4 separate regions of the Homo sapiens genome follow, and regions 1, 2 and 3 are each linked to region 4. Evidence: fine-mapped expression QTL. A gene starts in region 4. Each other region holds a variant in brackets. All regions are shown on one strand. Distances are from middle to middle. Region 1 overlaps LINC03068 (long intergenic non-protein coding RNA 3068). Region 2 overlaps LRRC27 (leucine rich repeat containing 27). Region 3 has its middle 23 kb from the start of LINC03068. Region 4 holds the start of PWWP2B (PWWP domain containing 2B).

Region 1 (2,683 bases), 39 kb after region 4:
AAAGCCCACCAGTGATGCCATCGCCTTGGGGCTTAAGTTCTAACAAATGAATCTGGGGGTGACATCAACATTCAGACCATAGCAGCAGCTGTGATGGTTACTTTTGTGTCAGCTCGACCAGGCCACGGTCCCCAGCTATTTGGTCAAACACCAGTGTAGACGTCGCTGTGAGGGTGTTTCTTGGATGAGGTTAATATTTCAATCAGGAGACTTTGGGTAGAGCAGAGTACTGACCATATTATAGCCTCATCCAGGCAGTCCAAGGCCTTAAGAGAAAAAGACAGTTGTCCCCGAGGAAGAGGAAGTCCCGCCTCCGGACGGCGGCCCCTGGAGGAAGAGGAAGTCCCGCCTCCGGACAGCTTCCAAACATGAGCCGCAGCAGGAGTGTCCCTGGGTCTCCAGCGGCCCTCAGGTGTCAGATGAGCAGCTGCCACAAACACATAAGCCAATTCTTTAAAATAAATCTCTCTTGCACGCTCTCCCTATGTATATATTTACATTTTATATATATATACACACACTACATGTATACTACATATACACACTATGTATACACATACATACACTGTGTATAGAATATATAGGTATGCAATATGCACAGACCATATACACTATGCACACTGTATATAATCTCTATATATGTATACTATATATACACTATACATACACTGTATATATCTATATGCACACTATATTACACAAATATATGCATACTCTATATTAATGTACACTATATGCACACTATGTATACATATGCTATCTCTATAATATATACACATTATATGTGTACATACACTATATATACTCTGTATGCATGCTACATATACACTATACACACACAGTATAGTCCATATGCATACACTATATACACACACTATAACTTTACACACACACACTATATATACTCTATATGCACACACTGTATATATGCTGTATATGTGTGTACTATATGCACACTCACACTATGAATATTCTATATATGTACACAATATCAATATATACCCTATATGTACATGGTATATGCCCTATATGTCCACGGTATATGTCCTATATGCACATGGCATATGGCCTATATGTACACGGGATATACCCTATATGTACACAGCATATGCCCTATATGTATGTGCTATATGTCCTACACGTACACTGTATATACTCTACATGTACATAGTATATACCCTATATGATGTACATGGTATATACCCTATATGTACATTGTAGATACCCAATATGTACATGGTATATGACCTCTATGTACACGGGATATACCCTATATGTACACAGCATATGCCCTATATGTATGTGGTATATGTCCTACACGTACACTGTATATACTCTACATGTACATAGTATATACCCTATATGATGTACATGGTATATACGCTATATGTACATTGTAGATACCCAATATGTACATGGTATATGACCTCTATGTACACTGTATATACCCTATATGTACA[C/CACATCCCAA]TGTTTGTACACACATCCCAATGGTTCTGTTTCCCTGGAGAATCCTGCCTACCCCAGACACCGCTACGCCCCTCTGCCCACTGCCACAGCCTCCCTGCGTGCCCTCAGGCCCCTTCTCCACTGGATGTGGCCCATTGGCTGGGTGCCCCCAGGTGCCTTCTCCACTGGATGTGGCCCATTGGCTGGGTGCCCTCAGGCCCCTTCTCCACTGGATGGGGCCCATTGACTGGGTGCCCCAAGGTCCCTTCTCCACTGGATGTGGCCCATTGGCTGGGTGCCCTCAGGCCCCTTCTCCACTGGATGTGGCCCATTGACTGGGTGCCTCCAGGCACCTTCTCCACTGGATGTGGCCCATTGGCTGGGTGCCCTCAGGCCCCTTCTCCACTGGATGTGGCCCATTGACTGGGTGCCCCCAGGCCCCTTCTCCACTGGATGTGGCCCATTGGCTGAGTGCCCCCAGGCGCCTTCTCCACTGGATGTGGCCCATTGACTGGGTGCCCCCAGGCTCCTTCTCCACTGGATGTGGCCCATTGGCTGAGTGCCCCCAGGCCCCTTCTCCACTTGATGTGGCCCATTGGCTGAGTGCCCCCAGGCCCCTTCTCCACTGGATGTGGCCCATTGGCTGCGTGCCCCCAGGCCCCTTCACTGGATGTGGCCCATTGGCTGCGTGCCCCCAGGCCCCTTCTCCACTGGATGTGGCCCATTGACTGGGTGCCCACAGGTCCCTTCTCCACTGGATGTGGCCCATTGACTGGGTGCCCCCAGGTCCCTTCTCCACTGGATGTGGCCCATTGGCTGAAGTTTGGCATCCAGAGATTACAAGGCTCCTAGCTGGTGGGAGCCAAGGTGGTGGGGAGCAGGGAGGCAGGCTGCCAGATAAAACTCGGGATCCCCAGCTAAGATGAATTCAGATCAGCAATGTATCATTGCTTAGTATACGTCTGTCCCAAATTTGCATGGAGCACACGTATGCTGAAAATGGATTTGTTGTTCTAACTTTGATCTTTTGAATTTGCTAACCTGGGCCGCCCTAGGGAGGGGCACCCAGCCCGGTGGGGAGGGGCAGCTCTGTGCCCTGGGTGGCTCCAGCCCAGCCTTGTCTACACCCCTGACCCAGGCCCGCCTGCCCTGGCTCCCCTGACTGTGAGGGGCTCCCAGCACCAAGGCCCCTCTGTAGGGTTCCCACCATGTGTCTTCTCATTTCGGAGGGCCTGGACCTGTGG
Region 2 (2,683 bases), 32 kb before region 4:
ACCACTGGAGACCCCAGGGCATGAGCACTGCTCTCCGGTGCCCCCGTGCTTTCCTGGCCTGCACCAGGCTCGCTGTGGCTCTCACTGAAAGCGCCTCACTGCACTCAGAGGCCAGAGCAGAAGAGACCGTGGGGCCTGAGCTTGGAAGGCCCAGGGCCTGGCCCCGGCCCTGCTGCTCAGCGTACGTCTGCCAGGGGGCTCCCCACTCAGTTTAACGTACCCTGGATCCCGGCTGCGATGTAAGAAACCTGGAGGAAGGGTGAGGTGGGATGAGATGTGGGTGACAAAGGGCATGTTCTGTTCCTGCAGAATTTGTTCCTCCTGGAGGCTGACAGTGTTTAGGGAAAATCTCGAAGGCCAACTAGGTTGTATTAACTCCCCAACCTCGTGAAAATGGCTTAGACTAAAACCATTTCGTCTCAAACATTTGAATGTTCTCTTACATCCTCCAGGGAGTTTACCTGCCATATTTGGCCTTTAAAAAGCCCACAGCAGACCACAGTGGCCCGCTAACCCCCCATCACCCTGGGCACAGTAAAAGCTGGAGTCTGAGGCGCTGACACAGGGCATGCCCTGACCTGAGGGCTCTGTTCTGTAGAACTCCAGAGGACATCATGCTTTCTTTTCCATAGTTACTCTGAAAAGCAAGCAAAACCGGCACAAACCCTGCTGCTGGGAGTAAGAGGGTCTTCGGAGAGGCTGAGTGAGACTGTGTGCCATTGTATTCACAGTGGCGCATGCACCCACGCCCGCACCAACACCCACACCACACCCATGACCACACCCACACTTAATCTACCTCCACACCCGCGCTTACACCCACCCACACTTACACCCACCCTTACATCTACCTCCACACCCGCGCTTACACCCACGCTTACATCTACCTCCACACCCACACTCACACCCACCCACACTTACACCCACCCACACTTACACCCACCCTTACATCTACCTCCACACTCGCACTTACACCCACACTTAAATCTACCTCCACACCCACACTTACACCCACGTCCACACCCTGGGGCCCCACACTCAGGCAGTCCGCGTCCACGCTTACATCTACCTCCACGCCCACACTTAACACCCACCCACACTTACATCTACCTGCACACCCACGCTTACACCCACGTCCACACCGTGGGGCCCCACACTCATGCAGTCCGCGTCCACACTTACATCTACCTCCACGCCCACACTTACACTCATGCTTACATCTACCTCCACGCCCACACTCACACCCACCCACACTTACACCCACCCTTACATCTACCTCCACGCCCACACCCTGGGGCCCCACACTCACGCAGACTGGAGTGGACCCCGCCACCCCACAGCTCACCTGCAGCAGATCCCCAGCTCTTTCTACCACCCTGAGTCATTGTCTTTAAAATTAAAGGAACCCCAAACCCCTGAGCCCCAGTGCTAACAGAAAATATGTTTAAAATCATAATTGAATACACTTTTCTGTTTGTCTGTTTAAGGATTTAGGAAAACCGTGTATTCCATGTGGGAACAGAAACCTGCTTTTCCCTTCATGTGGTGCAGTGTGCAGTGTCCTAAATGT[G/A]TCATATCTTAAATCAATTTGAGGTTTTTAAATAAGAATAGTGTGTGTTCTGGCAGCTTCTGAACTACTGAAGAAGGGATGGGAGAGGCAGCCCAGGCCCCCCGGCGTGAGTCTGGAGGAGAGTGGGTGCCGGGGAGGCCCAGGGCAGCGCCACAGTAACTGGCACAGCTGTGCGGGAGCCTCAGGACCGCTGTTTGGTCTGGGAAGAAAGGCACATGCTTTCTCCCTGGTTATGGCGGGAGTTGCTAGGATGAGAGTAAATGTGTCAAGTCATTTCCCTCTTTGCCCTTTGTTTCTCAGTGCCCTGCAGGAGAGAAATTTAGAAGAGAAGATAAAACAGCACGTCCTCCAAATGCGTGAGCAAAGAAGATTCCATGGCCAGGCCCCACTGGAGGAGATGAGGAAGGCTGCCGAGGATCTGGAAATTGTAAGGATTTCTTGGTTCTGTTTAAAAAAGTGTGGGGTGTTTTTTGTTTTGTTTTGTTTTTGTTTTTTTGAGACAGAGTCTTGTTCTGTCACCCAGGCTGGAGTGCGGTGGCACAATCTCGGCTCCCTGCAGCCTCCACCTCCCAGGTTCAAGCGATTCTCCTGCCTCAGCCTCCCGAGTAGCTGGGACAAGTGTACACCACCATGCCCGGCTAATTTTTGTATTTTTAATAGAGATAGGGTTTTGCCATGTTGGCCAGCCTTGTCTCGAACTCCTGGCCTCAAGTGATCCACCTGCCTTGGCCTCCCAAATTGCTGGGCCACTGTGCACAGCCTAAAACATTGTTTTATTAAAAATAAAGAGAACTCACTGTGCCTCTTCAGAGCATGCGCTCTCTAAAACCGTGGGACTGTGTGGAATGTGTCTTATGAGGTGTAGAAATTCCCAGAATTACAGTTGGTCACATGAGAAGGAAAACATTTCAGCCGAGGGGCTGAGCCCTCAAATGTGCCAGGCCACATGGCGGGCCTTGGCATCTCAGCACTGGGAATCTGATGGCAGGAGTGGCAGCCTGCTGACAGGGACTGGGAACCAGTCCTCTCCACATGTCTGTGGGGTCCTTGCTTGAGGTTTTGCACCCAGCTGATCCAGGCTGTGGGCCCAGGGCTGGGCCATGAGGGGCGTCA
Region 3 (2,683 bases), 25 kb after region 4:
TTCTTCCTCTTCCTCTTGTTCTTCATCTTCCTCCTCTTGCTGCAGATCCTCCCCCAGGTGGCTCCATTTCTGCTGGTCCCATCTCCCGGAGGCCCTGCCCACAACCCCCTGCCCGCCATCTAGGGGGACCCTGGCGTGGTCCAGGAGAGGGAGTCAAGGCCTGTGTGGGGCTCCTGGGGCTGGAGTCCTGGTCTGCCTTCTGGGGACAGAGACTAGGTCGCCCTGGGCTCCAGCTCTGTGGCCTGGCTGTGTGGGCTGGGCCAGGGCCTCTGCGTCACCTCCTTGCCTGGGCTTCTCACAGTGCAAGCCCCGCAGCCTAGGCCCTGCTGGGTGGTGGTGGGATGGCTGGGGAGGGGCAAGAGCAGGTGAGGAGTCCTCACTGGGGGTGCATACTTTGCATTACAGCTGGGGAGGCTGAGACCCGGGGGGCCACAGCTGGTTCCTGGACTCCAAAGCCCAGGACCCTTCCAAATCCTGCCTGGACGGCACCGTGGCCAGGACCCCAGCCAGCACTTCCCTTTTCTGCGAGGGTTTTCTGTTTCTTTGATTATAAAATAACCCCTGTTGGTGGGGGGAAAAAATTAGCAAAATAAAGAAAAGCAAAAAAAAAAAAGAAAATTAGAATCTCCCGCAGTCTCACACCCTGTGGGCCTTTTGCGTATTTCTTCCCGGGTGAGTTTTCTGGGCATTAACAGATGTTTGCTCTGCAGACCTGGCCTTGTGTCACCCTGGAACTCTGTGCCCAGCTCACCCTTCCGTGGCTTCCTGTGGCCGGGGGCTCCCTCCCCTTCCTGCCCCAGGTCTGAGGTGCCAACGGCTGCCTGTGGCCAGGGGCATCTCCCCGTGGACACTGAGGGAGGAGCCGCGGCAGGGCTGGGCTCTCCCGCTGGGCTCCCTGCACCCTGCGGCCCCGGCCCCAGCCCCACCCCCAGCCATGGGAAGGGTGCACTCCGGAGAGGCCGACGCAGATGGGGCCCTGCCCCTGGCCTGAGCGTGGCCGTCATCTGCTCAGGAGGGTTAAGCTCCTTTGTGCCCCAAGGAGCTTCAAGCCGATCAATACCCGGCTGGAAGTAGGGGGCTGCAGCTGGGGGGGCCCCACCGCCCTGACCCCAGATGGACTTCCTGCTCCCTGCCCAGCTTCTCTGCGGGGGGAGGTCAGGTCAGTGGGCCTCCTGCTTGGCCTTTGGGGCCACCGCCCCTGGGCTCCAGCTGAGGCTGTCCCAGGGCCGGTCTCCCTTCCCGCCCCCACCCTACAGAGGCGGCCTCACCAGCCAGCCTCTGCCCCAGCAGAGTTATTTTTAGCCCCAGCCCCGCCTGCTGCTACCACGGGCCTTTTCTCCGCAGAGAGAGGCGGGTGAGGCCTGAGGGCCTCACCCAGGGCAGCCAGTT[C/T]CCCAACCACGAAGGGAGGCAGGAGAGCTTCCCTGTGCGGGCAGGCGTCGCTGACCCTCCAAGGGGCAGAGCAGTGGGGGCTTCCTTCCTTCCTGGGTGTGGCTGGGGGGAGGGGGCTGAAGGCCTGGAGCCGGAGGGGCTTGCCCTAGAGCCCCATAGCCAGGCAGGGGTCAGTGTCCACAGCTGGAGGGGCTGGAGAGGTGAGAGAGATGGTCCCAAGGGAGCTGGGAGGCCCAGGAGTGGGCCCAGTGCTCAACCCGCTGCCAGGCAGGGACAAGACCTGAGAGATGAGAGGGCGGCGGGGGTGACCCTCGGAGGGCAGAGGGCGCCAGGACGGAGAGATGAACGGGGCAGTGGGGTGACCCATGGAGACCCACAGAGAGCAGAGGGGCACCAGGATGGGGAGACGGAGGCCAGTGGGGGCTGAGGGGTCCCGGGGGAGGACTGTAAGGAGCCACATAGTGGCTGCGGTCGGCGTGGCTGGGAGACAGGGGTCCAGGAAGCCCACTGGAAGCTGCCGCCCCGGCTGTAGCTGCAGGGCTCTCTGTGGGAGCCGGGAGCTGGGTGCAGAGCTGCGTCGAGGCTGCCTGAGGCCTGGCAGCCCAGCAGGAGGGGACTTACCCCCACCCCCCCACGGAGGAGAAGGCTCTGGGGCCTGCTGGGTGCAGACGCAGCTGGGATCTGCTTTGGGGAAGAAAACCTAGGCAGGTCACCGAGGCTCTGCCCAAGCCAACGCCTGTCACCTGTCACCGAGGTGTGGGTGTCTGTCCTCCTCCCAGCCGTCCATCCCCCTCCCTCCTGGCCCCGCTCCAGCCCGCAGCCCCCATGGGAGCCCGAGAGAGGACAGTCTCAGCAGGTGGCACAGACAGATGCGGACTCCTCACTGCAGGTCACAAGGCATGTTTTCAGAGACCAGCTGCGGTGAAGATCATCCAGCCCTTGGGCCCCTGATCCGTTTGGATACAGTTTCAAGCATGAATTTCTCCTTTGGTGGTTTGCTACAAAGAGAAGAGTTCTCATGATTTCTTTGGGGTGTTCATCCTATGATTTTGGGGTGAGGATTCGTGACAGAGACAAGCAACAGGAGTCCAGGAAGCCCTCGGGGGAGACGGGAAACAAGTCTTTTTGAAAAAACAGCTTTCTTTGAGACGTAGCTCACATATCATATGATCCCTCCCCTTCCAGTGGACACGTCCATGGCTTTCAGCGTGTTTATAGATGGGCAACATCCCCACGGGCCCTTTTAGAACATTCGCTTCACCTCAGAAAGAAACCCCACAGCTTTTAGCCATCA
Region 4 (2,683 bases):
CCTGGAGCAGGGTGGCGAGGGGGTCCCTGCTGCCTGGCATTTTTCCTCCAAAGTCAGCCCCACCCCTGGAGGGGGCAGCTGCAGAGGCCTGTGGGCAGGACAGCAGGCAGGCTCCACTGCAAGCCTGGCAACCAGTGGGCAGGGGCTGGCTGACCCTGGAGAACGGGGCGCCTTGAGGTGCCTGAGGCCCCAGGAAGGGCTTAGTGTTGGCGGGAGCCCCAGGCCACACAGAGGAGGACAGACACTCACTGGGCTTCCAGGCCTCCTCTGGGACTGTCCCCGGCCAGAACTCTGGCTCATTCGGCCTCGGTCCCTACCCCTGTTCTAGCCGGACGGTCAGGTGTCCCAGGCCCCGCGGGCTCCCTCACTCCGCCCTGGCTCCTCTCTGAGGCTCCCACTGCCGCGCGGCCGCCGGAGGGCGAGGTCGACAGGCGCCAGCGACCCGACGGTCCCCAGTGGCACCAGGGGCGGTGGTCCTCAATTCCCAGGCTGGGAGGAGCCCTGCCCGGCGGCGCTGGGTCGCCAGGACAACTACGCGGTCCCCCGCCCCGCCTCCAGGCCTCGTCAGGCGCTGCAAGTCCGGCTCAGAAGCCCGGCCCGGGGCCAAGGTCACCGCAGCAGGCCGGGCCCCTGCGTTCTGAGCCGGGTGCGGACGTGCTGGTGCTCGGGGAAGTCGGGGGCTTTGACGCCTGAAGGCGCGGGAGCCGGGCGCCTGGGGGAAGGGGGTCCGGCGCCGTCACCTCCCACTCCTCGCCCGCGGGTCGGGGAGCCCCTGCCGCGGGGGAAGGAGGCTGTTTCCTTTGTAAACTGGCGGAGGCGCGCCTGGCCCCTGGGCCCGGCAACCCGAAGAGACACGCCCGAGACCTCCGGAGGGAGTTAACCCCCCGGGCCCCGGTGCCGGCCACCCCCAGGCGCGCAGGGTGGCCCTGAGCCGGGCGCGCGCCCGCTTGTCGCCCCGAGAGGCGCCGAGCCCAGTGGGGCGACCCAGTGTCCCGCCCCCCACGCGGCGAGGGCGACACTAGGCCGCTGCCCCCGGGCGCCCCGCGTCCCCTCCGCCTGCCCCGGCTTCCTGCGCGCGCCGCCCGGGACTTCCTCGCCGCAGTGCCCGGGGCCACCAGAGCCCAGCGCGGGGCGCTGCCGGGACACGCGGGCGGCCGACCCCAGGCGGGAGGATCCGGGCCACCGGGGAGGGAGGGAGGGCGCAGGGCTGGGCCCGGAGGGGGAGGGGGGCCCGGGACCGGCCCCAGGCAGGGGAGCGGGGGGATGGGGTCCCGGGGCTCCGGCCGCGGCGGGTGTCCCCCCCGCCGCCCCCGGGCTCGTGGCTCTCGGGTCCTCCCGAGCCAGGGGACACTCCCGGCCAGCGTGGGCCGCGAGCCCGGGCGCAGCCCCCTCTCCAGCCCGGGGGTCCGCACCGCGCGTCCGGCCGACCTCTGCGGGCGGGCGCGGCTTCTCCCGGGACGCGGCGGCGGCGGGCGGGGTCCCCGGGAGCGGAGCCCGCGGCCGCGCGCCCCCGGCCCGGCTCGGCTCGGCTGTGGCGGCCGCCCCAGCGGAGCTTTGTGACGTCAGGCGGCCGCGGGGCGGCGTCACGCGCGGGGCTGACCCGGCGGCGGCGGCGGCGGCGGCGGCGGCGGCGGGGCGGGGGCGGCCTGGGACGCGGCGGGAGCATGGAGCCGCGCGCCGGCTGCCGGCTGCCGGTGCGGGTGGAGCAGGTCGTCAACGGCGCGCTGGTGGTCACGGTGAGCTGCGGCGAGCGGAGCTTCGCGGGGATCCTGCTGGACTGCACGAAAAAGTGAGCGGGGGCGCGGGCCGGGACACCCCCGGGGTCCCCACGCGACACCCGCCTCCGCCGCCCGGAGACCCGGGACCCGCCTCCGGGTTGGGGGTGGCGTGGCCCCGGCGCCCGCTTTCGGTTTCTGCCGAGCCTGAGTTTCGGGGCGCGCGAGCGCGGCCGCCACTCGGGGGGGCAAAAGTGGTTCTCAAAGTCGTCGCGACTTTTCGGGGCGGGCGCCGGGCCGGGGCGGGCCGGGGCGGGGGGCGCGGGGCCGGGGTCCCGGAACTCCACACATCTGCCATAATTAATGCACTTTTCTTTGTTCAGAGCCACTGTTGAATTCGACTGTTGGCAGAATTGTCGTTAAAGCAGGGGAGGGTCAGATGCGCCGTGGCCTTGCCCTGGCAGTTCCTCACAGGTGGGGGTGCCCTGTCGAAGGCCACGGGCCCCTGGCTGCTGGGAGTGACTCCGCGGCTGAGGTTTGGATTCGGGGAGAGCAGTTGCGCCCAGCTGTGCGATTTAAGAACAGTTTCAGGCCAGGGAGCCCTGAGTCATGGGGGCGTGAAGAGGTACAAGCTGTGGGAGCCGTGGGCACATCCCCCGGGAGCCCTGGCTTCCTGGGTGGGGGGCGCAGGGCAGGGCGGGGCGGTTCCTCCTGAGAGGCACCTGTGCACGGGCTGCAGGGACCCATGCGGTGCAGATGAGCCTCCTGGACACCGCGTCACATGGCAGGGAGCTGTCGCTGCCAGATCAATGATTAGGCATGAATCAGGCTGTGGCCTCGCTGCGCTCCTGCAGGGCTTTCTTTTGAAACTGGGAGCAGGGAAAGGCTCCTCTTGTAAAGGCCCAACTTTTTCCATCCGTGGAGCCCAGATTTTTGCCTGGTGACATGAATTAGCAGAGAGGACCGTG

The links.
Region 1: its variant is fine-mapped to the expression of PWWP2B in whole blood (INTERVAL, PIP 0.92).
Region 2: its variant is fine-mapped to the expression of PWWP2B in whole blood (TOPMed, PIP above 0.99). The same link has a PIP of 0.9 or more in lung, prostate, skeletal muscle and transverse colon.
Region 3: its variant is fine-mapped to the expression of PWWP2B in blood mononuclear cells (TOPMed, PIP 0.96).

What each region holds. Positions count from the first base shown.
Region 1 is chr10:132,434,265-132,436,947 of GRCh38, forward strand. It overlaps LINC03068 (long intergenic non-protein coding RNA 3068), which reads right to left. Exons shown (of 3, transcript NR_184030.1): 3 at 1-427. Among named protein-coding and RNA genes, the nearest start is that of LINC03068, 9.4 kb to the right of the region's middle. The variant C/CACATCCCAA (reference allele first, on the strand shown) is at 1,461.
Region 2 is chr10:132,363,554-132,366,236 of GRCh38, forward strand. LRRC27 (leucine rich repeat containing 27) reads left to right here. Exons shown (of 11, transcript NM_030626.3): 10 at 1,871-1,997. Among named protein-coding and RNA genes, the nearest start is that of PWWP2B, 32 kb to the right of the region's middle. The variant G/A (reference allele first, on the strand shown) is at 1,571.
Region 3 is chr10:132,420,353-132,423,035 of GRCh38, forward strand. No RefSeq gene overlaps it. Among named protein-coding and RNA genes, the nearest start is that of LINC03068, 23 kb to the right of the region's middle. RefSeq lists silencers at 900-949, 980-1,039, 1,070-1,129 and an enhancer at 1,587-2,490. The variant C/T (reference allele first, on the strand shown) is at 1,390.
Region 4 is chr10:132,395,563-132,398,245 of GRCh38, forward strand. It overlaps PWWP2B (PWWP domain containing 2B), which reads left to right and starts at 1,638. Exons shown (of 3, transcript NM_138499.4): 1 at 1,638-1,789. The coding sequence starts at 1,665. It overlaps LOC124902526 (a long non-coding RNA gene), which reads right to left and starts at 994. Exons shown (of 2, transcript XR_007062342.1): 1 at 1-994. RefSeq lists enhancers at 1-79, 80-602, 2,173-2,683 and silencers at 411-790, 811-1,240, 1,651-1,760, 1,771-1,910.